Homo sapiens: one gene and its partner. The protein of the gene in region 2 interacts with the protein of the main gene of each other region in a pairwise test. Each region holds a gene or a part of one and is shown on either strand. Other genes may lie near its edges. The genes, in order: GOLGA7B and ZDHHC5.

Region 1 (12,359 bases), on a different chromosome or scaffold from region 2:
ACTTCCTAGTAGTCTCCGCAATGTGCCATGAGATGACATTGTTTAAGGCTTTCCAGACCACAATTTCCCCCTCAAGCATTCATGCAATTGTTTTCCATCCAGACCCAAGTGCTGAGAATTTCCTCGTCTCCCCTGCTTTTTCTTCATCTCCCTGAGGTTTGCTAGCTCTTTCCCTGGCTTCTCTGCCGTCTGCAAGAGTTCGTTTTTCTCTCATCTCTTTCCAGCTATTATGATTTCCAAATCTTTCAGTTGGTTTCTTTTTCCGGCTGTGGTCCTTTATGGGGAGGCTTTCCAATGCAGCCGCAGATTGGAGGATGATAACACTGAATGTTAGTGGATCTTCTTTGATGTTATTTTGTGGGTGAACTCATTAATTTATGATAAAAAACATCAAAGAGCTAGGCTCTTGCATAGGACTAGGTTGTCCCAAGGCAGCTGGATAATAATGATTAGTCAGATTAAATCTCAAAGAGCTCTCTGCCTCAAATATAGGAGTTAAAGTCCAGATGACTGCATTTGGGAACATCCCATCCTCTAGCATCTCATCACAGCCTTGAGTCAGCCCAACATGGAATGCTGCCCACTCTGAATGTGGGTCTCTCTCTGTGGCTTCCACTTTGAGGCCTCTAAGACTTGAGGTCTGTTGAGATTGTTACAACCCTGGAGGCAATGTAGGGGAAATAGGGTGAGGCTGTGAAAGCCTCTTTCCCACCAGAGGAGCTAGATATTAAAAGGGATCATTTGTCCTTGCATGAGTGATCTCAAAGCTCTCTATAGACTCTAGTCCTGTGACGTCAATGGGGAGAACTCTCTCTGGGCTAAGTGCCAGCTCCATGCTTGGCACGGAGCAAGCTTTCTATAGGTACTGGCTGAATGATGGACCAAGCTTTCTAGAGGTAATGGTTGAATGATGTGTGAAAAGCCGTTGGCTAGTTGAAGGGGAGCAGGAGTGGAGCTCAGGTTTTTCTTTATGTGACAAAACCTCCTAACCAGCTCCCATCTGTGGCCATTTACTGTGTTTTTTTTTATTGTTATACTTTAAGTTTTAGGGTACATGTGCACAATGTGCAGGTTAGTGACATATGTATACATGTGACATGCTGGTGCGCTGTACCCACTAACTCGTCATCTAGCATTAGGTATATCTCCCAATGCTATCCCTCCCCCCTCCCCCCACCCCACAACAATCCCCAGAGTGTGATGTTCCCCTTCCTGTGTTCATGTGTTCTCATTGTTCAATTCCCACCTATGAGTGAGAATATGCGGTGTTTGGTTTTTTGTTCTTGTGATAGTTTACTGAGAATGATAATTTCCAATTTCATCCATGTCCCTACAAAGGACATGAACTCATCATTTTTTATGGCTGCATAGTATTCCATGGTGTATATGTGCCACATTTTCTTAATCCAGTCCACTGTGTTTCTTTCGCCTCTGTGGGAAATTGTCTGTGCTCCTCTCCTGAGCCATCCCCTCTCTGTTTGCCCTGTGTCCCATTCTCTGCTGGCCTGTTAAGGGCTTGCTCCTGCAATTAACCCTCTCTTTTCTGAATCATCAGTGTTTCCCTCTCTACTAGATGATTCCTGTCAGCAGACAAACATGCCCTAATGTCTTCCCTCTTGAAAGGAAACTCCCTTGCTTCCATGTCTCTCTCAGACCCCCATGCTAGTCTTTGCTTCCCTTTGCAGGAGAAAGAATTGTCTACACTCTCAGTACCTCTCCTCTCTCTCCTCCATGCTAACTCTCAAACCCACTTTAATCAGGATCTTATCCCTGCACCACTAAAATGGCTCTTGTCAAGGTCACTGGCGAACCTTCTTGCTGCCAAGTCCAGTAGTCATTCCTCAGTCCTCATCTTATTCCACCTGTGAGCAGCATTCAACATGGCAGGCAAGGCTCTCTTTCCAGCCTTCTTTGCTTGGCTCCAGGACACCGCCCTCTCTTGAATCTCCTCCTACTTCACTGGCCCCTCTTCTCAGTCTTTTGTCTTCCAGCCTGTCAGTGACCAAGTGTCCTGAATCAGTTCTTGGACAGCTTTTCTAGCTATGCCTACTCGCTCGATGATGTCTCTAGTCCCATGGTTTTAAATGCTATCCACATACTGAAGGGTCCTGAAGTTATATCTCCAACTCCTCATCCTCCCTTATAATTTGCTTATAACATGCACATCAAACTTCAAACCTAAGTGAACAAAACACAACCAAAATGCTGTGTTCTCTATCCCTTCAGGCCTGCTCAGTCCCTAGTCTTCCCCTCTCAGTAGATGGCCACTCCTTTCTTCTGATGGCTCAGATCTCAAGACTTAGACTCATCTTTGACGATCTCTTATTTATTTATTTATTTTGAGACAGAGTCTTTCTCTGTCCAGGCTGGAGTGTAGTGGCACAATCTCGGCTCACTGCAACCTCCACGTCCTGGGTTCAAGTGATTCTCCTCCCTCAGTCTCCTGAGTAGCTGGGTCTACAGGTGTGTGCCACCATGCCTGGCTAATTTTTGTATTTTTAGTAGAGTCAGGGTTTTGCCATGTTGGTCAGGCTGGTCTTGAACACCTGATCTCATCTCAAGTGATCCACCTGCCTTGGCCTCCCGAAGTGCTGGGATTACAGACATGAGCCACCATGCCCGGCCTGCCTTCTTTATACCACACATCCAATCCATCAGAAGATCCTCTCAGCATTACTTTCAAATTATATCTAGAATCTAGCCACTTTTTCCCACCTCTACTGCTACTACCAAATTCTAAGCCACCACCACATCTTCTAAGCCTGGGCTGCTCTAACAGTCTCCTAATTGGTTTTGCAGCTTCTAGCCTTGCCTCCCCTCTGACATCCAGTGGAATCTTTCAAAAACTGCAATTAGATGATGTCACACCCCTACGCTAAACCTTCTTAGGCTTGCCATCTTACTTTATGAGTAGAATCTGAAGTCTTTATCAGGGCCTACAAAACCCTGGAAGACCTGATTCCTGCTACCTCTCTGAGCTCAACTCCCAACTCTCTTCCCCTTGTTCACCTCAGGTCTAGCTACACTGGTCTTCCAGCTATTCTTTGTTTTTATTATTATTATTTTTGGGGACGGAGTCTCACACTGTCACCCAGGATGGAGTGCAGTGGTGTAATCTCGGCTCACTGCAACCTCCGCCTACCAGGTTCAAGTGATTTTCCAGCTTCACCCTCCCAAGTAGCTGGGATTACAGGCAGCCACCACCATACCTGGCTAATTTTTGTATTTTTAGTAGAGATGGGCTTTTGCCATGTTGGCCAGTCTGTTCTTGAACTCCTGTCCTCAAGTGATCCACCTGCCTTGGACTCCCAAAGTGCTGGGATATAGGTGTGAGCCACTGCGCCCAGCCTCCTGCTATTCTTTGAACATACCAAGCCCAGTCCTGCGTCAGGGCCCTTGGATTCTGTCCTCTCTGCCTTGTCACTCTTCCTCCAGGTATCTATATGTCTAGTTCTCTCTCTTCCTTCAGGGCTCTACCCAAATTTCACCTTATCAAAAAAAGTATTCCCTGACTATTCTTTCGAAAATAAGCCCTCTCTATCACTATCTCCTTACCATATCTTCTTCCTAGCAGTGATCACACTTTTCTTCCTAGCAGTGATCAAAACTTGACATATTTTACACATATTTGCTTATGTCATGGATTGTTACCCCCATTACTATATAAGTTCAATAAGGACAGAGGCTTTGCATTTTTAGTCACGACTGTATCCCAATTTCCTAGAAGAGTGCCTGATACACAGTAGGTGTTCAACAAATAGATGTTGATGAATGGATTTGTTGAATGGCCTCATCCAGATATCTAGTCATCAGGTGAAGAGAATGGTTTCCAGAAGGTTGTCTAATTGATGTGATAAAAATCAAGTGGGAGGAACTGTGAAATTTACATGGAGATCATCAGATTATGTGTTCTTTTATTACCAGTGACCACTGCAGGATTCATAGATATTCTGTTTGGTCCTTTATGCCAAATCCTATGCCAAACTATAAGGTAGAATGAGACACCCGCCTTTAACTTCTTTAGCATGTCACTTACACTCTGGGACTCAGCGTTTTCATCTGCAAAATAGGCAGCTGGAGATGTGGTCATTGCTCTGCTAGTCTATGGTCTACCAGATGCTGGAGGGAGGCAATACAGTTAGGAGGATCAACCACACAGGCTCTGGAGCTTGACTGCCCATGTCTGAATCCTGTCTCCATTCCCCACAAACCCTATGACCTTGGGCAACTTACTCAGTTCCCTCATTTATAAAGTGGGAATAATAAAAAGATCACAAGAACACAACTCAAAGAGTAATTGTGAGGATTACGTAAGATCATACATGTAAAGTGTGTAGCATATGGGCTGGCACATGGTAAGTGCTCACTAAATGTTAGCTACTAAAAATGAAAAGTTCTGGGAAAATTTTTGAGGGGTCATCGCTATTAATGTGTTTTAGGGGTGACAAACTGTTCTAGAATATTAGATAATATGGGCATTTTAAAAGCATGATAATTGGCTGGGTGCGGTGGCTCATGCCTGTAATCCTGGCATTTTGGGAGACTGAGGTGGGCGGATCACCTGAGCTCAGGAGTTTGAGACCAGCCTGGCCAACATGGTGAAACCCTGTCTCTACTTAAAATACAAAAATTAGCTGGGTATGGTGGTGCGTGCCTGTAATCCCAGCTACTTGGGAGGCTGAAAATCACTTGAACCCAGGAGGCAGAGGTTGTAGTGAGCTGAGATGGTGCCACTGCATTCCAGCCTGGGTGATAGAGCAAGACCCTATCTCAATAAAATAAAATAAAATAAAGCATGAGAATGGTGTTGTGCCTAGTTGGGATAACGCTTTTCTTCTTGGGAGATGCATGGTGAATTGAAGTACTTACAGATAAAATCTCATTGAAGTACTTACAGATAAAACCTCACGATGTCTGTCACCTTATTATTATTATTATTATTATTATTTTTGAGACGGAGTCTCGCTCTGTCACCCAGGCTGGAGTGCAGTGGCGCAATCTCGGCTCACTGCAAGCTCTGCCTCCTGGGTTCATGCCATTCTCCTGCCTCAGCCTCCCCAGTAGCTGGGGAGTAGCTCCCCAGGTGCCCACCACCACGCCCGGCTAATTTTTCTGTATTTTTTAGTGGAGACGGGGTTTCACCGTATTAGCCAGGATGGTCTCAATCTCCTGACCTCATGATCCGCCCACCTCGGCCTCCCAAAGTACTGGGATTACAGGCGTGAGCCACCGCGCCCGGCCACGATATCTGTCACCTTCTGATAATCTAGGCAAATATAGCTCTGTTTTCATATCTATCAATAAAGCAAATGTGGCAAAAAGCAATTGTTGGAGCTAGGTAGATGGCATAGTTTATTGTACTATTCTTTCAACATTTTGGTATGTTTAAAAATGTCAAAATAAAAGGTTGGAGAAAAAACAAAAGGTCCTAGAAACAGTCTAGTGAAATCCAACACTCACATTTTACAGAAAGAGAACCATAAGCTCAGAAAACAAGACAGTTGCTCGAGGTTATACAGCTGGAAAAGCCTGGGCCAGGTCTCTTGGCCGCCAGGTTCTCCCTGTGTGTGGGCTTCAGACTCTCAGGCAGCAGTGAGCTGCAGAGGAGCACACCCCACCACCCCTCAAAGAGACCAAGGGGTATTATGGGTATGTAAAAAGGCACTTGTGTTGGTGTTTCCTTTTTTTTATGTCTATTTTATTTATTTATTTATTTATTTATTTTTTGAGACAGAGTTTCGCTCTTGTCGCCCAGGCTGGAGTGCAATGGTGTGATCTCAGTTCACTGTAACCTTTGCCTCCCGGGTTCAAGCAATTCTCCTGCTTCAGCCTCCTGAGTACCTGGGACTACAGGCGGGTGCCACCATGCCTGGCTAATTTTTTTTTGTATTTTTGGTGGAGATGGGGTTTCAGCATGTTGGCCAGGCTGGTCTTGAACTTCTGCCCTCAGGTGATCCACCCGTCTCGGCCTCCCAAAGTGCTGGGATTACAGGTATGAGCCACTGCTTCCGGCCTTATTTTTATTTTTTTAAGAGACAGGCTCTTGCTCTATTGCCCAGGCTGGAGTACAGTGGCACAATCATGGCTAGCTGCAGCCTTGAACTCTTGGATTCAAGTGATTCTCCTGCCTTAGCCTTCTGAGTAGCTGGGACCACAGGCACACATCACAACGCCCGGCTAATGTTTTCATTTTTTGTGCAGACAGGGTCTTGCCCAGGCTGGTCTTGAACTCCTGGGCTCAAGCAATCCTCCCACCTCAGCCTCCCAAAGTGTTGGGATTACAGGTGTGAGCCACTGCACCTGGTCTCCTTTTTATTAAACAAATAGATCATTTAGTTGGAATTTATGATGTCAAAAGTGCGAAGGTGGCACCAGAGCCAGACCTGCCATCCTTGGAGAGTGAGCATACCGGTTTGGCACCATCTGCTTGTGGTTTTTGAGTGGTGGTGGTAGTGGTGGTGCGTGTATGTAAACTCGGGTTGCAGAGGAGAGAGGGAAGAGTAAAGGGTGGGGACCAGGTCCAGGAAGAGCAGCAAGGAGAGACTGGCTTCAATTCTGGAGCTGCCTGAAAGAAGGGACCCCAGGCTATGGCTGAGAACGAAATGTGGGCACGTATTTAAAGAAAGGAAATGATTCTCTGCGGTCGGCAGGATCTTTGTCTAGCTAGTGGGGTTCCAGGAAGTGCAAAGGAGAGGGGAAAAGAGGGGCCGTCCGTGCAAGCCTGACTGTGTGTATATGGGGGGGGGGCACACAGAGAGGAAAAGGGAGAGAAAGAAAAGAAATTATTCTAAAGAGGAAGCTGGGGGCGGGGCGAGGGAGGGGTAGAGCCGGGGCACTGGGGGTGGCTGGAAAGGTAGAGAGGCCTCACCTGCGGGCCTGCGAGCGGCTCGGGAGCGGTCAGCCTTGCAGGCTGAAGCGTCTTGCCCCGGAAAAATTCCTGCCCCACTGTCCTTCAGGCTGGATGTCCCGGGGGCCACGGAAGCGAGCGCAGAGCTCCGGGGCTCTCACGAGGGGGAGGGCAGGAAGGGGAGGCGGGGCCTCGCGCGGGGCGGTAGCCGAGCCTGTGGCCCGGGCGGGGCTCCTCTCCGGCGGCGCCGGAGTCTGGGGGCCGCGGCTTCCCCCTCCCGGCCAGCGGCGGCTCCTGGCCCCTCCTCCCCCGGCCGCCCCCATCCCCGCCGCCGCCGCCGCCAAAGCTAAACCCGGCCGTTGCCTGCAGGAGCCGCGGCAGCGGGCGATCGGGCCGTGAGGAGCCTCGGGCGCGGCCTCGCCTCCCGGGCCCGGCGCCTGCCTCAGCACAGCGGACAGCGCCGCGCCCCTTGCCTGGACCCAGCCGCCCGCCCGCCCCCGGCCCACCTGAGCCCGGGCCCGCGGCGCCCGCATCAGCACTGCGGACAGCGCCCCGGGCCCCAGCTCGCCGCCACCGCCGCCGCCCACCTGCTCCCGGGGTCAGCACCGCGGAGACCCCCCTCGCCCGGCCCCGCGACAGCCTCCGAGCGCCCCCGGATCATGGCCACCGAGGTAGGGGCGAGCGCCCCACCCGCAGGCAGTGCCCGATTGCCGCGGGACCAAATGCCCTAGGGGTGGGCTGGGCAGGAGTGGGAGGCGGGAGTTGGGGGTGGGATGGGGTGATTCCCCAGGTCAGGTCTGGAGGGAGGAGGTAGGGGCTTAGTGAGGGCTCATCTCCCCCTTGCGTGTCAATCTTCCCCTCGCCCCACCTGAGCCCCCAAGCTGTCCGCGACACTTGTTGGCATTAGCGCCAGGGTTGCTTCAGGGCCCCAGGCTGGGGTTTCCCCTTCCCTGGACTTCACAAGTCCTGAAACCGCTTTCCTAGAGGGTTGGAGACGCGTGTGTGTGCGTGTGTGAGGGGAGGGAAGGCGGCTGTCCGCTGTTGCTATGCAGTCAGCTTCTGAACCCAAAAGCTTGGCTAAGGGATGACAGACTTACCTCTACATCCGCATTTCCTTTGCGGGAGGGAGGGGACAAAGACATCCTCAGGCTGAGAACCCAAATGGTTGGTCTCCACTTTTGCATATCACCCTTCTTGCTTTTTTACCCCATTCGAGTTTTTTTTTTTTTTTTGTCCCAGGGTGTCCAGATTTCCCCTCCATCTGATGGGAGTTTCTGCCTTCTTCAAGGTGCACTGATAGGTGTGTCACCTTCAAGCACTTGAAGGCTGAACCACGGGGCCTGTTAGCTAAGGGCAGAATCTTGGTATAATGCTTGAGGTCGAGGATTCCCCCCTCTACCCCTAGGGATTGCCCTTTCCCCCCTCATTTCAGGAGGGAGATTGGGCTCTTTATGTTCCCACTTTATACATGATAAAGGTGATGTGTGGAAAACGAAAGGACTAATTTGCTACTCCACACAGCATGTCAGCAGCAGAGCGGAAAGTTTTTGCCTTTGAATTTTTGGAGCGAAACTCAGGACATCAGGGTCTCCCCAGTTCTGATGTTGACTTCCTTTGTGGTGTCTCCCCATTTCCAATCCAGCTGGCATACACTGGGGGAGAGCAGAGGCCTGTGAATGATTCAATGCAGTGCTTCTGGGCATCCTGGTGAGCAGTGTGACATTAATACCAAGTGTGGCTGTTGTTATTCCACTCAAGTTTCCACCACAGAACAAGGTGCTGTTGCTTGGCATTGCTTGGCATTCTGACAAGGCACAAGGTTAGCTAGGCGGAGAGTTGCCCCTCAGGACTTGGTGTGAGGGCAAGCCCTGGGCAGACCCTGGGAGCTTGGTTTCTAGAGTAGAGGAATGCAGAGTACTCACAAAGCACCAAAGACATGGAGGACAGCAGGAAGAACAAAGGGAGAAACCAAGGAGTTGGTTACCTTCCAGATAGGGCTGCCAGACTGCAGCAGAGGCTGCTGTGTTGGACAGAAAAGGGGAACTTCAGCTACATGGGCATGGCTGGGCCAGCAGCGTGGGCAGAGAAGGCAGCTGCCTCTGCGATGTGATCTGACAGATTCCAACAGGCCCATCTGTCCCAGGATGTCTGCCATGGCCCACAGATTCCAACCAGCAGGCTTCTATCTCTATGTCAAGACAGCGTTTCCAGGAGGCTGCTATGAGACATGTGTGACTCTCCCCTGGGAGGGGCTCTGCTCATAACGCCTCTGAAAATATTGCGCTTTCCTGTGTACAAAGCACTATCGCATAAGTGATCTCTTTCAAGCCTCAGAGCAGCCCTATGAAGTGGGTAAGGATGGTGTTATTATGCCCAATTAACAGATGAGACAACTAAGGTTCAGAAACTTGCCTGGTCCCTGTGAAGGAGCCAAAGAAGGCATCATTATCCCATTTTACAGATGATGGAACTGAAGTGCTGAGACTTATTCAGGAAAATATGGCTAAAAGGTGGCAGGGATGGGATAAGAACTTGAGTCTTCTGCCTCTTTGGCCAGTGCTTTTTTTTCCTGCATCCAATTAGCCTATTGTGTCACCTGATAGAGAGGAGGGCCCTCCAGGTCTTGATGTGAAGCTTTGGTGGAGAGAGGGATGCAAAGGAAGTCATGAAGGGCTGGAGTGTGGGGACTCAGGCCCCCTGCTTGGCCTGGCTGGGTTGGTTTGAGGGCAGAGGGACAGAGGAAAGTCCCGGAGTGATGGGGAGCTGAGGACAAACATTCCTCACTTCACAATTTGGCCTTGGGTGGACTCTGATGGCAGAACTGAGGCAGGAAGCCTTAGCTCTGCCAGGGCACAGGACCTGCACGTATTCTGGGTTGTGGGGTGAGTCATTCTCCCAAGGCTGTTTTTACTGTTAGAATTGAGTTGAGATTACCAGGATAAACTTGTTGGGAGAGGGAAAACATCGCTTTAAGTTCCCATGATTATTCTGTTAGGATTCTCAATAGGAACTCCTCAGCTCTAGGAGAAGCTGTATTGAGAGAAGGAGAGAGGGAGAGGAAGGGGGTGGGGAGAGGGACAGAGAGGGAGGGGTGAGGGAGAGGGAAGAAATTCATGGGTGGAAACTGGGTCTTTTCTGTTCCCTAATTTCTGTTTAGGAGTTAGCATTAGGGGAGAGGTGTCTGTAAGGAACTCAGAGGAGGGATGGAGCCTCCTGAGTGATACACTGACCTCATTTGGAGAGCTGCAATGAGCCCATTTTCTGAGCAGCAAACCTCTGTGAATGTGTGTCACTGGGAGCAGGGTCTGCCCTGGGAAATAGTCCAGATGGCCAAGGACAACTGGGAAGTGCCTGGCTGGGAGGGGCTTCTCCAAGTGGTGGGGTTTGGTCTCTAAGAGATTTTTAAATGCATCCAAGTAGCGTTATTCAAGCAGGGTGTTTGGAGGTTTGATCTTTGAGGCATGGAATTAATGATGAGTAGACAACTGGGTCAGGCTTGAGCACTGGTACAGGCTGAGAAGAAGGGAGGTCTTGTGGCTGGTGTTTTATCCTTAGGCCTGACCTGGCTGTCTGTGACTCATGATCCTCACTCCTCCTTCACACCCCAGCCAGGAAGCAGAGTGCTGGCATCAGCGGAACCTCCTAATTCTCGATGCCTCACATGCATCCTATGGAATGAGATGGTTTTTAATGAGGATGAAGATGGCGCCAGGGGGGCACTCCTGTTGGACTTGGGCAGACTGGACCAGGAGCTCATTTGCACTCTAGAGCTTGTTCCTCTGCACCCCAGCTAGTTGACTGTCAGGTGAACAGGAGCCAAATGTGTGACCTGTGGTACCCACTCTCCAGGCAGACTCCCCCTCCTTCTCATACTGCAGTTTGAAAATTGGTACCCATGGGTCTCACCACTGATTTTCTTCCTTATGAAATGCTTCTCGGCCCTGTCTTCACTCTGCTGCCAGTGAGCCAGGGGTGGCAATGGGAGAGAGGGGCAGGGTTGAGGAAGGTGAGAAGTGGAGAGAGGCTCAGGTCTCTGGGTCAGTTAAGAACCCCCTGGGAGACACCCAGGGGAAACACAGAAACTGCAGCTTCAGAGAGAGTTGTGCACATATTTTGATATCCTCTGGTAGGATTTCAGAGCATCACGGATCTCTGCTGAAAACCCCACCAGCTTTCTGAAAACTTAGTAGCTGGCCAGTGGCCTGGAGCCTGGCTTAGCTCTTGCCCAAGGGGCCCCAGCCATGGGATTCTTTATTTAGAGGTCTTAAACTAGCAGCTCTAGAAATGAGTCTGGTCCATGGGTGTGCCTTACTTAGTCTGTTGAGTGCTTATACATTTTAAAAATGTATTGGAAATATTCAAAAATCAGAATATTTGATGTTAAAAAGATCTAGATTTCTGGCTTCTTTTGAGACACCAGAAGTGCTGGCAACCTGGGTATACATTCCCACGTGGCAATAGTCATCTGTCTCCTTGAGATGGGGCACCAGTTTTCTAATTAGCCCCAGGCCCCACCTGGCCCACTTATTGCTCAGCCCCTGTAAACATTTGCATTCATAATCCCTGATAAAGCCTCTAGAATGTCAGAGATGAAAGGGGCTTGAGCAATGATGTAGTTCCAGTTTCTTAGTTTCCAGTTGAAGAAATGGAGGTGCAGAGAAGGGAAGACTTTCCCAGGGCCATGTGGCCCAGGGTCAGGTCTCCTGCCCCCAGGTCAGTGGGCCATCTTTCCACTAGGGCTTCCTGGCACTTCACACTCAAGCCACCATGAATGGAGAAAACCAGGAGACCCTGCCTTGCCTTAAATCCGGCTCTTCACCAACTTCAGATGAGTCTGTAATATATGTACTCTATGTAGGTCTGGGAGACTAAGGCTCTGCCATATAAAATGTGTCTGATATCATCCTTTAGCAACTCCTCAGAGTTGCTCCTCCACAAACACTCTCCAGGGAGAGAAGCAGATCTCTGGTCACCCAGAGCCTGGATAGTAGTCTAAGGCTCAGGATATTGTTGGTGCTGAAAAGGGTGTTGACTTATCCTACTCTGGCTACTTGAGAACCTGTGGATCAAAGCCAAGAGGAAATGGGAATTTATTATGTAAGGTAGCACCCCCAAATCTTAATGTATTAATAGCTTAATACAATAGAAGTTTGTATCCTGCTCAGTGAAGTTCCAGGTAAGTGTTCCTGATCAACAGGTATTCCAGGCGGTGATTCAAGGCAGTGATTCAGTGATTCAGGGACCAAGGCTCTTCCCAACTTGTGGTGTCACTATCTTCAACACAGGGCTCCACCAGCCTCCATGAAAGGGGAAAGAGCAGGGAGAAATGGTACATCTTTATGAATCAAGCCTACACATGGCATTCGTCACTTCCTCTCACATTCTACTCAGTCATAGGGACACACCTAACTGCAAGGGAGGCTGGGAATTAATATAGCTGTATGCCTAGGAGGAAGAAGAAATGGCTTGGGTCAGTAGCTAGCCAGTCGCTAGAGACACACGCCTTCAGGAC
Region 2 (12,025 bases):
TTAGAAGGGAAAAAGAAATTAAATCCTTAGAACACTGAGGTGCCCATGATTTAAAAGTCTCATTCCTACAACTGGCCACTGTGGCCTCTTGAGCTTCTGAAAGAAATATTCACCTTAGTTTCCATCTCTGAGAGAAACTAATGAGAGTAAGAACAAGATATGAAACCTCCTGCAGGCCCATGTCAATCTTTCTGACTCGACTCTTTCTTCAGTTTTGTTTTTTGAGACAGGGTCTCGCTCTCTTGCCCAGGCTGGAGTGTAGTGGCAAGATCACAGCTCACTGCAGCCTCAAACTCCTGAGCTCCAGTGATCCTCCCACCCCAGCCTCCTGGGTAGCTGGGACTACAGATGCACACCACCACGCCCGGCTAATTTTTTGTAGAGACAGGGTTTCACCATGTTGCCCAGGCTGGACTCAACTCTTGAGCTCAAAGCGATTTGCCCGCCTCAGCCTCCCAAAGTGCTGGGATTACAGACATGAGCCACCATGCCCAGCCAGTTTCATTTTTAGGCAAAGCAACTCAGTTTCTTGGGGATCCTGCCAACCTATCCCTGGATGATGAACTTTACCCTACAACCTTCTGGATATCAACTTGGTCCAGATAAAGTGTGTAATCCTGGAATGGAATTCCAGTATCTGTTGCCAAAATAAAGTCTGCCCCCACAGTGCCAGAATCTAGAAATGATGCAAATAACAACTTCATGGACAATATTTGCTCCTAGATTCACAGAACCATTGCTTCCAATCAGCACTATAAGGGAACACCCCACCAAGGAGAGGCATGTGTGAGCAGAGCCCGTTCTTGCCATATCCCAAATTCTGCTTGATTTAAGGAGAGGCTTTCCGTTGCTATGGTACTTTGCCAGATTCCTAGGTGACCACCCCAAGTGGCCTGTCTGAATCTGTTGCCTTTGATGGAAGATGAGGCCAGAGCTCAGAACAGGAGATGTTGGGGCTCGTCCTTAGACTATGGCAATAATCATAAAGCTCTAAAAGCCTAGGGAGTGGTCACAGCCCAGAAGGCTGGCTGACTCATTGACAGGACTACCAGACCTATACCATCTCAGGTAGAACGGGTTCTTCTGCCCATCCATTCAGCACTCCTGTTTTCAAGACCAAATAAAATTGGCAGAGTGGGGCCAGGTATGGTGGCTCACGCCTGTAACCCTAGCACTCTGGGACACCAAGGTAAGTGGATCACCTGAGGTCAGGAGTTCGAGACCAGCCTGGCCAACATGGTGAAACTCTGTCTCTACTAAAAATACAAAAATTATCCGGGCGTGGTGGTGGGCACCAGTAATCCCAGCTACTCGGGAGGCTGAGGCAAGAGAATCACTTGAACCCGGGGGGCAGAGGTTGCAGTGAGCCAAGATCGCGCCACTTCACGACAGCCTGGGCGTAAAAGCCAAACTCCGTCTCAAAATATATATACAAAATAAAATAAAAAATAAAAATAAATAAAATTGGGAGAATGGATTCCAATATCCACACTCCTGAAACCCTGTTTCAGAGCACTCCCTAATGCATCCTGTTACAAAAAAATGGTTAAGTTCTTAGAAAGAAACACAAAGTAGGAGTCAAGAATCTTTGGATTTTAATCCTGCCTCAATTAATACTTCTCTATGCAAGGCCTTAGGTAATCCACATGAAACTCTCCAACCTTGTTACTTCAGCTACATAGTACAAACATGAGAATGAAGGAGAAAGATCTTCATTCAAAAGTTATTAGAATTCATTTTTTTTGAGACAGGGTCTCGCTCTGTCACCCATGCTTGGCTCACTAAAATTGCCTCCCAGATTCAAGCAACCCTTCAGCCTTACCCTCCCAAGTAGCTGGGACTACAGGTGCATGCCACCATGACCAGCTGACTTTGCTTATTTTTTGTAGAGACAGGTCTCACTATGTTGGCCAGGCTGGTCTCGAACTCCTGGGCTCAGCGATCCTCCCGCCTCAGCCTCCCAAAGTACTAGGATTACAGGTGTGAGCCACTGCTCCCAGCCGCTAGAATTTTTTTTTTTTTTTTTTTTGAGACAGAGTTTTGCTCTGTCACCCAGGCTGGAGTGCAGTGACGCGATCTCGGCTCACTGCAAGCTCCGCCTCCCGGGTTCACACCATTTTCCTGCCTCAGCCTCCCGAGTAGCTGGGACTACAGGCGCCCACCACCACGCCTGGCTAATTTTTTTGTATTTTTAGTAGAGAACGGGTTTCACCGTGTTAGCCAGGATGGTCTCGATCTCCTGACCTCCTGATCTGCCTGTCTCAGCCTCCCAAAGTGCTAGAATTCTTTTTAAACTAGCTGGCTTGATACTGAGCATTCAGTGGACAGAAGACAAAAGAAAACATTATTAACTATCACCATCATTATCATCATCATCAATTATTCCACCTCTACCTTCCCCTATCTGAAATACTAGGAATTCAAGGACACTTAAAACAGAGACACTAAGCTCCTAAAGAATAGGTCTATGCATTCTGCCCATGCCTAGCATATTGCTTGAGCATATGACTAGTGTTCCTTGTTGATGAGAGAAGGCTGAAATGAATGTTCCACTTCCTGCCCATGGGGATCCTCATTTAGAAATCCTTTCCTCAAGATTCCATGAGAAAACAATTTCTCCCTTTACAGGTGGGCAACCCAGTTTCTCTGAAAACACCTGATTTGTGGTACCCAGACTTTCAACCAGCTGAATGTGAGACGTAGGACCTGGGCACTTATTCCTGGATAAGAAAACAATGTGAGAAGGAAAAGGCACAACCACTGCTCCATTAATGTGCTAAATCACAAGGCTGCTCCCACTCAAATCAGGTGCTAATACCTCTGCAGTTACGGGGGAGGGGGGACCAGAGAGAACTCCATGGAGGTCGGCCAACTTCCTGTGGGTAAAAGGGTTGGAAGAGGACTGAGGCAGAAACTGAAAAGCCGCAAACTATATAATGGATGGGAGCCTGAAAAGACCATCATGGATTTCCATACAACTCTGACTTTATCCTTCCCTTAGATCACGTGAAGTGGCCAGGTGCGGTGGCTCACGACTGTAATCCCAGGACTTTGAGAGGCCGAGGTGGGTGGATCACCTGAAGTCAGGAGTTTGAGGCCAGCCTGGCCATTATGGTGAAACCCCAACTCTACTAAAAATACAAAAATTAGCTGGGCTTAGTGGCAGGCGCCTGTAATTCCAGCTACTCAGGAGGTTGAGGCAGGAGAATCGCTTGAACCCAGGAGGCAGAGGTTGCAGTGAGCCGAGATCACACCACCACACTCCAGCCTGGGCAACAGAGTAAGACTCCATCTCAAAAAAAAAAAAAAAAAAAAATCACGTGAAGCAGAGATCTTATCCTGCCCCCTCCCCACCAGCTTTAGAAATGGATAAAATAGGGGCTGGGCGTGGTGGCTCACGCCTGTAATCCCAGCACTTTGGGAGGCTGAGGCGGGCAGATCACGAGGCCAGGAGATCACGACCATCCTGGCTAACACGGTGAAACCCCTTCTCTACTAAAAATACAAAAAATTAGCCGGGTGTAGTGGTGGGTGCCTGTAGTCCCAGCTACTCGGGAGGCTGAGGCAGGAGAATGGCATGAACCCAGGAGGCAGAGCTTGCAGCGAGCCGAGATCGCGCCACTGCACTCCAGCCTGGGCGACAGAGTAAGACTCCATCTCAAAAAAAAAAAAAAAAAAAAAAAAAAAAAATCACGTGAAGCAGAGATCTTATCCTGCCCCCTCCCACCAGCTTTAGAAATGGATAAAATAAGACCTTAACTGGACTAATTCACAGTTTGATGAGACTTTAAACAAGATACAATTCAAAGTGATTCGAAATGGTGTTACCAGGAGCACTAGGTCTCAGGAGATCCTACACGGTAAAGAGGCGATACCAAGGGGCTGGGCCTCTATATGCCAGCCTCACTTGAACCAGAGCAGCCCTAATTTTTATGTTGGTTTTTTTTTTTGTATATAAGATTTCATTTGAAAAAGGGTCATGTTGCTTAAACAAACTGCTGTAGGTCAACGTTCTCACTGTAAACAGGAAGAACTTAGGTCCACAAAGGTTAACAGACTTCACCAGAATCAATCTCCTGACCTCCCCCAAAGAGGGCTTATCCCACTTACCTAGGACTGCCCCTCTGCCAGTCAAAAAACAAGATTAAACTAAGATAGATAAGCATCCAAGTAGTTATCCTAAATGAAGTCTAGTAACTAACTGGGAGGTAGAAGGTTACTTCAGCAGACACTCTCCCTCCCAAATAGTGAAAACAGAGAAGAATTAAGACAGGATCCCCACCATTCCTTAGTTTTAGTGCTGGACAAATTCAGGGAATGAGAGGGATTAGAGTTCCAGGAGGAAGGCCTGAACTGTTCTGTTCAAGATTCTCTGGGGCAGATCACTATTTCTTTGATGCAAACTCAACTAGTAATTTCTGCTCATAGCTTTCCCCAACTTAACAAAGAAACATGGAAGGTAAATTGTTCCTAACTAGTTGAAGTCTACATGCCTCCACTAATTATGTCTGTTACCTGAAAGGGACTCTCCCTCCTACTCGCATTCCTCTATATCCCAAAGTAATTCTCACCTGGGGCTTCTAATAATGTAGCTAGTTGTAGCCTAGTGAAGAGAATAGGAGGATGATAGAGTAGTTACAGATTTACAGCCCCACATAGGAGCTAGTTCAGAGAGTTTTCCTCTTGCCTCTCCATTTGAAACCCTGAACTCTTTTTTAGGTTGTATGGTTTTAAACAGGGGATTCTCCAGGGAACTGAACCTCGAAAGAGGTAAAATACATGAGAGGATAGTTTTTAAGAACAGTGGTGCCTCAGCCCAGATATATGCTTACAGAGGAAATACTCTAGTCAGATGGAGAAGAGGAGATGAGAATTTCAGAATTACCCGAGCTAGGTGCTAGAGTAAGATAAACAGTGTGTTTGTGCCCCCACAAGGTGACTAGGGGAGATGCTTAGGAAAAGATGGAGCCCAGAAATTGGTCCTGTGGAAACTAGCGCCAGGGGGAAGGAACTCCAGCTATGACTTAGGGTTCTTCTAACTTTGGATGAGAGGCAATAATTCCAAATAAGGTCAATATTGTCCTCCAAAATCCTTTTTCCTAGAGCTAAGAGACCATGGAATAAGGAGGGCTCCTACTTTACTGGCACCAGGGAATGAGAAAGTAGGTTAAACAGCTTCAACTATCAGTTGAGAAAATGCCTATGTCAGGACAACTCTTTGTAGGCAAACTGGTATAACCAGTCAAACACTTCAATGGTTCCAGATTAGCAAATTAAAAACAAGGATTCAGCTTGCTCTATCTCAAGAAGAGGGAGCTTGAAAGACAGAAATCATTTAGTCCCCTCAATTTCCTTCTCCAAAGGCTTTGCCTCTTAAAGGAAAATAGACCCTCCCCAATTGAGCAGAGTTAAGGGTGTCAAACTGGTCTTGTACATACCCCTCTTGACCCAGAACCAAAATTGCTACAGGATACTAAGATATAATATAAATGTCCCTTAGTTAAAATTTTGATTCTACTTCCTGGCCATATTAGCAAAAACCAAAACAAGTTCTGACACCAAAGACTCACCCCTCTTTCTGGTAGTAAATGTATGAAGAAGGACAGAGCACTGAACATGTTGAGTTTAAGCAAGAGGAAAAGGTTATGAAGAAAATATTAAGTCAGAGAAAAGCAGCACTGTCTCTAGATCCTTGAGAGACTCCAGCAGGTATGCTCAAGCTCAGAGCTGGGGGCCAAAAAATCTACAACTTCTCTGCTTCAGAGGAGGTGAGAAGTAGGATGGTGTTCATGCCTTAGATAGTGATTCTTTCTCTCCTTCTTTAAAAACTAGAGAAATACATCAGTATTACTTTGCTGACTCTTTAGACAATGTGACCCACATTTTTCAGAATATCTTTTGGCTTCTAAAGCTAAATATGGGGAGTTTTCCTTCCCTCCTACCTCAGATTTAACTTGTGTATAATTGCCTCCACCCCAATAATCTCTACTTCAATGAGCCCAAGTGTTTTTATTCCCTACCACTTCAATTCACTTCTTCCTCTTTCCAGCAACCTCATGTTGCTCTGAATAACACTTCACAACTAGGTTTGAGCCTGAACCATGACAAAGTAACTTCCCAGAAGATCCAGCATGCTCTGATGATTCCAAGAGCTGCAACTAGAGCACTAAATCAATGACTCAACAGTATAAGGCTCAGAAGCCTGGTACATGTTAATTTATAAACAGGTAACAGCAAGGATGCCTTCCAGATGGTCAAGAGCTTAATAAAAAAAAAAAAAAAACTGAGGAAAAAGGGAAGGTTTAAATCACTCAGTCTCTTCCAATAACAAGTAAATGAAGAAAGTCTGAAGATCAAAGTGAGAATGATGCAGATCCTAGATCCTAAATGGGAAATTTTTTCATACCAACTGCTTTTCCCAACAGAACCAAGTAATGGGAAAATTACTGTCATTCCCTCGGCAGAAACTAACATAAAGGGACTCTTTTAGGACTCTCTTCCCAAATACAACTTACCCTTTCCTTTCTCAGTGGCCTTCACTTCTCCAGGCTTCTGTTCTTAAGAGTACAAAGAAAACCATCTGGGTAGCACTAAAAGCCAAAACTCTCTCATTGGTGTATCTTATAAATCAATTCTGAAATTTTCCAATACTCTCAGTTTCCACAATCTCAAACCTAAGTTTCAGACATCCTGGAAAAAAGCCATTAGCATTTAAAAAGGCTTTAGTCGGCCCAGCATGGTGGCTCACACCTGTAATCCCAGCACTTTGGGAGGCCAAGGTGGATGGATCACTTGAGTTCAGGAGTTTGAGACCAGCCTGGCCAATATGGTGAAACCCCATCTCTACTGAAAATAAAAAAAATTAGCCAGGTGTGGTGGTTGGCACTTTTAATCCTAGCTACTAAGGAGCCTGAGGCAGGAGAATCGCTTGAACTTGGGAGGCGGACGTTGCAGTGAGCCGAGACCGCGACATTGCACTCCAGCCTGAGTGACAGAGCAAGAGACGCTGCCTCCAAAAAAAAGCCTTTAGTCTAGTCTAGTTCTCTTTCTCATAGAATTGACTGCTTAAACTGCTTTAAGCCTCTCTGGTGGTTTCCTCCCACTTCCTTCCTAGCTTAGGATCATCTAATGATGGAGCTGGGTAGAAAAATATGAAGACATCTATGATTCCAAAATAAAGGAGGAAAGGGTAGGTAGAAGATTCAGCGAAGTAAAACTGATAACACGACTGAAAGGACAGGCTTTTTCTCATTTTTCTTACATGTCTCTGGGATTTGGATTTACCTGTACCAGACGCTGAGCCCTCTCAGTCACTTGGCTTTGCAAAACTCAAGAGAAAGCGTTATCTCCTCACTTCCCATGGAGTATCCACCCACCCAAACACCCCTGCTGGGAGAAAACTCACGTAAAGGCAAAGAAGAGTGTCGTAGCTCCCACTAGGAAGATGGCGGCTGCAGAGACCGGGACATACTTGCTGGGTTTGAATCTCTTTCCAGACTCTGCGGGCATGTTGGAGCTCTGATGGGAAATCTGCCCTGCCGCATAGCCCAGGCCCACACAGCGGCAGAACAGACAAGAAAATGGGAGGAGGGAAGCAACAGAGAGGAGTACAAAAGAAAACCAGGGAAACAGAAAACTTTATCACCCTTCCCCCTCCCAAATAAAGCCAAAGGTCAAAAGATCTCAAATGAAGGAAAGCACATGGGAGGGGGAAAGGTGATTCCAAATGATGAATAACCACCTCCCCAGAACAAGGCAGAAGGGAAGATTAAGAAACACAACTTGTACAGTTTAAAAACTGGAGACAAACAGTAGGCTGTACACATGCAAATGGTTGCAGGTGGAAAACATGGACAGTCAGACAGATCAAGATACAGCTCATGGATGGAGGCAGGTCTTCAAAAGAAGGAGAGAATATCAGGGTATGGCAAAAAAACTTTGGGCAAAGAAAAATTCTTCTGAGATACTATAGTACCTCCACGACTACAGTTCCATAAAATGTGAGCTGCACCTAAAAGAGGTGTGCCCTGTGTTTCTATTTCTATTTCAATCCAAGAAGGAACCTGAGGCCCCTTCCAACTTTAAAGAGGAGCTTTGTTTACTGCAGTCTTTGTCTCTTTTAGGTAGTCTTCTCAATGCCACCACTCCCACACCCTGACTTCACCAGGGCTTGTAGTCTGGCAATGGTGGTTTAATTTATTTCTCTCTTGATGGCTAAAGCTGGACAACAGCTGTTCTAAGTTTGAGCTGTAAATCCTTTTCTTTGAAGGGGCAAGGAAAACAGGGCAAGCTTCTCTGTCTTCAATCTCTTCTTGTTATTCCCAAGCCCTTTAAGGGCTCTGTTTCCTACAAAGTTCATGTAAAACTAAAGGGAAACTTAAAATCCTTGAAGCCATGTTCTTCCCAATAGGCAGAATAAGATGAAGAAATCAATTCCAATTGATGACACTTCAAAAGTTTACTGTGGATGAAAACGAAGTTCCAAAGATGTCCCTGTTTCCAGACTAGTCAATGTCTCTTATCTTTCTTCAGTCTTCAGCTTTCCAGATGCAGAGTTCAACCAGGTTACTGTGTCTCACCTGGAGAAAAACAAGTATCTTTATCAGAGAATTCTTTCAGGGTATTTCTTAGACACCAAGGCTAAAATTCCACAGGCTGCTGTTAAAAAGTACTTTCTGAAAGAAAGACTGTTTTCCATTTCACTTACATGTATGTGGGTAAGAAGGGACTCTGAATTCAGAGGAAAACTGACTTGAGAATCCTTTGCTCTGTTCAGATTGGAAGCAGAACATGGCTTCACCTGGCCAAAGGACATCAAAGGACTAGCTCTTGTAAGGGGCCCATCTCACCTGACATAGATGGTAGTAACAAATACCAAGAATATCAAAATCACAAACAAGGGCACAGCAGTGAAGGGCAGTCCTAGAACAAAGATTTCTCTTTGGACAAGAAGAGTGTTTATTGTTATAGTGAAAAAAGAAAAAAATTAACCTCAAAATTAGGAAAGCAAGTCTCATTTTCTTTCTCTGTGTGTTTCTTTTGCTCCTCTATGCTTTTTAGTTACAATCCTGAAGAGGTAGAAGCTGAATTTTTGGTCTTTTGGAATCACCCATTAGAACACTGGGTAAGAAATGTTCTTGCAGAGAAAGCCATGATGCCCTCTATGAGAAACTGAATAAGCATAGCATAGGGTTGGTTCTTTTTTCCCAATTCAACAGTTTATTATTCCTATATTGGCCTAAGGTAACTGAGCCCCACCTGCCCCAATATGATTAAAAGTAACAATTATTTCTGTTGATGACAATAACAAACTAACACCAGCACCTTGGGATTTTATAAAATGCTTTTCATCTGGTGATCTAAAAGCACTTTACTCACATTATCTGGTGACGCAGTCCCTTATCCCACTCTTTAAAATTGAAGGCTACAGAATGCCCGAGGACATTCCACTGAATCACCTCAGGTTCAGAACTCAAGAGGTCACATGCCCCTCTGGTGACACAAACCCTTTCTACCTTTTCATCCACTACCTGCCCAGAGATGATAACTTGGAATCTGCAAGCCAAAAATTTTAAGTTAGAATTTTAAAAGAAAGTAGTTTTATTCCCTTCTCTACTAAAAATACAAAAATTAGCCGGGCGGGCGCCTGTAGTCCCAGCTACTCAGGAGGCTGAGGCAGGAGAATCACTTGAACCCAGGAGGCGGAGGTTGCAGTGAGCCACTGCACTACAGCCTGGGCAACAGAGCAAGACTCTGTCTCAAAAAAAAAAAAAAAAAAATCAGAAGATTCAGATAACAAAATATAAATGTGCCCTATAATGTACCACTTCCTCTCTCACCTATGGCATGGAAGGCAAAGGTGCCTTCCCTTACGATTCATTTCTCTCTTTAAAATTAGGGTTTCAGAGGGCCAAACAGCAGTATTAGAATACAGTGAGCGCCAAAAGATTCTAAGAAACTGTTATAGTCCTAGAAAACATAAATCCTCTCTAGTCCCTGATTTAATGATTATTTAACTCTCAGTTTCCTACAGGAATGGAAGCCTAACATTTGGAATGTAGGCCTCAGTAACTTTGTTAACAAAAGCAAACTCTTGATTTGTAGACAATATGTACTTTTTTTTTTTTTTTGAAACACAGTTTCCCTCTGTCACCCAGGCTGAAGTGCATGGTGTGATCTCAGCTCACTGCAACCTCCGAGTCCCGGATTCAAGCAATTCTCCTGTCTCAGCCTCCCGAGCAGCTGGGATTACAGGAGGGCACCACCACACCCAGCTAATTTTGTATTTTTAGTAGAGATGGGGTTTCACCATGTTGCCCAGGCTGGTCTCGAACTCCTGACCTCCAGGTGATCTGCCTCCTCACCCAAAGTGCTGGGATTACAGGTGTGAGACACTCTGCCCAGCCAATATGTACTATTAAAGCAAACTTTTCCCTCAAAATCCCAAAGACTAGAAAAGATGGAAAATTATACTACTTAAATTTTATCTAGAGTAGAATATCATTTAGATACTATATATTGTTTCATATATTTTCCACAGGAAAAAAGTCACATGGACTAATATTGACATAGTAATACAGAGTCATGAAAGGCCATGCAATTTTGGGAGTATAATACTGGGAACACAAAAGAGAACAGCATCTGAGATGCTTGGGGGCTACACAGTAGAAGGGAAATCAAAAACCTAACAATTTATTGGGTATAAATAAAGATGAACCAATTCTTAGCAAAAGAATGTGCTGCAGATACTAGGATGAAACCACAAGGGTGAGTATGGTTCATCAGAGTCAACAGTTTGAATCCATACTAGTATCAAAAAAGTATACAAGAATATGTATGCCAGCTGGGCACGGGGGCTCACGCCTGTAATCCCAGCACTTTGGGAGGCCGAGGCGGGCGGATCATTTGAGGTCAGGAGTTCGAGACCAGCCTGGCCAACATACCAAAACCCTGTCTCTACTAAAAATACAAACAAATGAGCAGGGCGTGATGGGGCATGCCTGAAATCCCAGCTACTAGGGAGGCTGAGACACGAGAATCGCTTGAACCCGGGAGGTGGAAGTTGCAGTGAGCCAAGATAGCAGCCACTGCACTCCAGCCTGGGCGACAGAGCCAGACTCCGTCTCAAAAATGAGAAAAAAAGTAATATGTATGCCATATTGAGGCACAGAGTAAACTATGAAATGGAAATATGTATATGTAAAACAAACAATACAGGATATGTGGTTTGAAGGCTTTAATAAGGTTTAATACAGGTATTTCCTTAAATAGGTGGATACCAGCAGTACCAAGGACAACACAACTATTTTTTGTTGAAATAAGCGGTGTAACAGTACAATAGAGTAAATCTAAATGCACAGTAATGGAGGTACCATGGAATAATTCACATGTCAAGGTATGGGAGAAAGAGCCAAGAAGTTTAATGTGGGTGTTATCATTATATACCGAGGTAGCAAAATACATGGCAATATAATTTTGTAAACATTAAGTTTATACAATGGGTGATAATGAGCATTCTGAAGATATTTGATCCAGGACAGAGGTATACTGAGATAGAAGGATGATATGCAAATGTTAGATCAACTTGGTCAAGATGGCATTAACCAGGAAGTGAAGAATCCAAGGCAAAAAATAGTCTAGCGTATAACGTATATGTGATCCTACAACTGCCTTCCTAACTTTTAGCAACTTTCTTACTTCTTATTTCAGTGTTTCATTTGGCCAAGTGGGTAAAACACTTTCCACCTGCCTGCCCCAAATATAGGTAAAATATTGACAAACGCATTCGGGCTCCACTTTAAAAAGTACAAAGTACTAAACGCATGGAGCACTCGGCTGGTGGCGGTAGGAGGAGGAAGCGGACGGGTGAGAGAGAACAGGTAACAGGATGAAGCTTGAGCCAAAATAAGTATCAGCAGAGTGGAGCGAGGGACTCGAACCGCAGAGCGGTAAAAGGGAAACAGCACCCGGTCCCCACCACGGGACTGGGGAAAGGAGAATCACCCGTTGGGGCAGGGCTGACGAC

The links.
Region 1: the proteins of ZDHHC5 (region 2) and GOLGA7B interact in binary tests that used the Homo sapiens proteins (3 or more experiments, as listed by UniProt).

What each region holds. Positions count from the first base shown.
Region 1 is NC_000010.11:97,842,798-97,855,156, forward strand, and holds the start of GOLGA7B (golgin subfamily A member 7B), read left to right. Parts: upstream 1-7,045; 5' UTR 7,046-7,506; coding exon 7,507-7,518; intron 7,519-12,359.
Region 2 is NC_000011.10:57,668,575-57,680,599, reverse strand, and holds part of ZDHHC5 (palmitoyltransferase ZDHHC5), read right to left. Parts: exon of another isoform or gene 12,004-12,025; intron 8,580-12,003; 5' UTR 7,510-8,579; coding exon 7,406-7,509; intron 1-7,405. UniProt on the Homo sapiens protein: Palmitoyltransferase that catalyzes the addition of palmitate onto various protein substrates such as CTNND2, CD36, GSDMD, NLRP3, NOD1, NOD2, STAT3 and S1PR1 thus plays a role in various biological processes including cell adhesion, inflammation, fatty acid uptake, bacterial sensing or cardiac functions.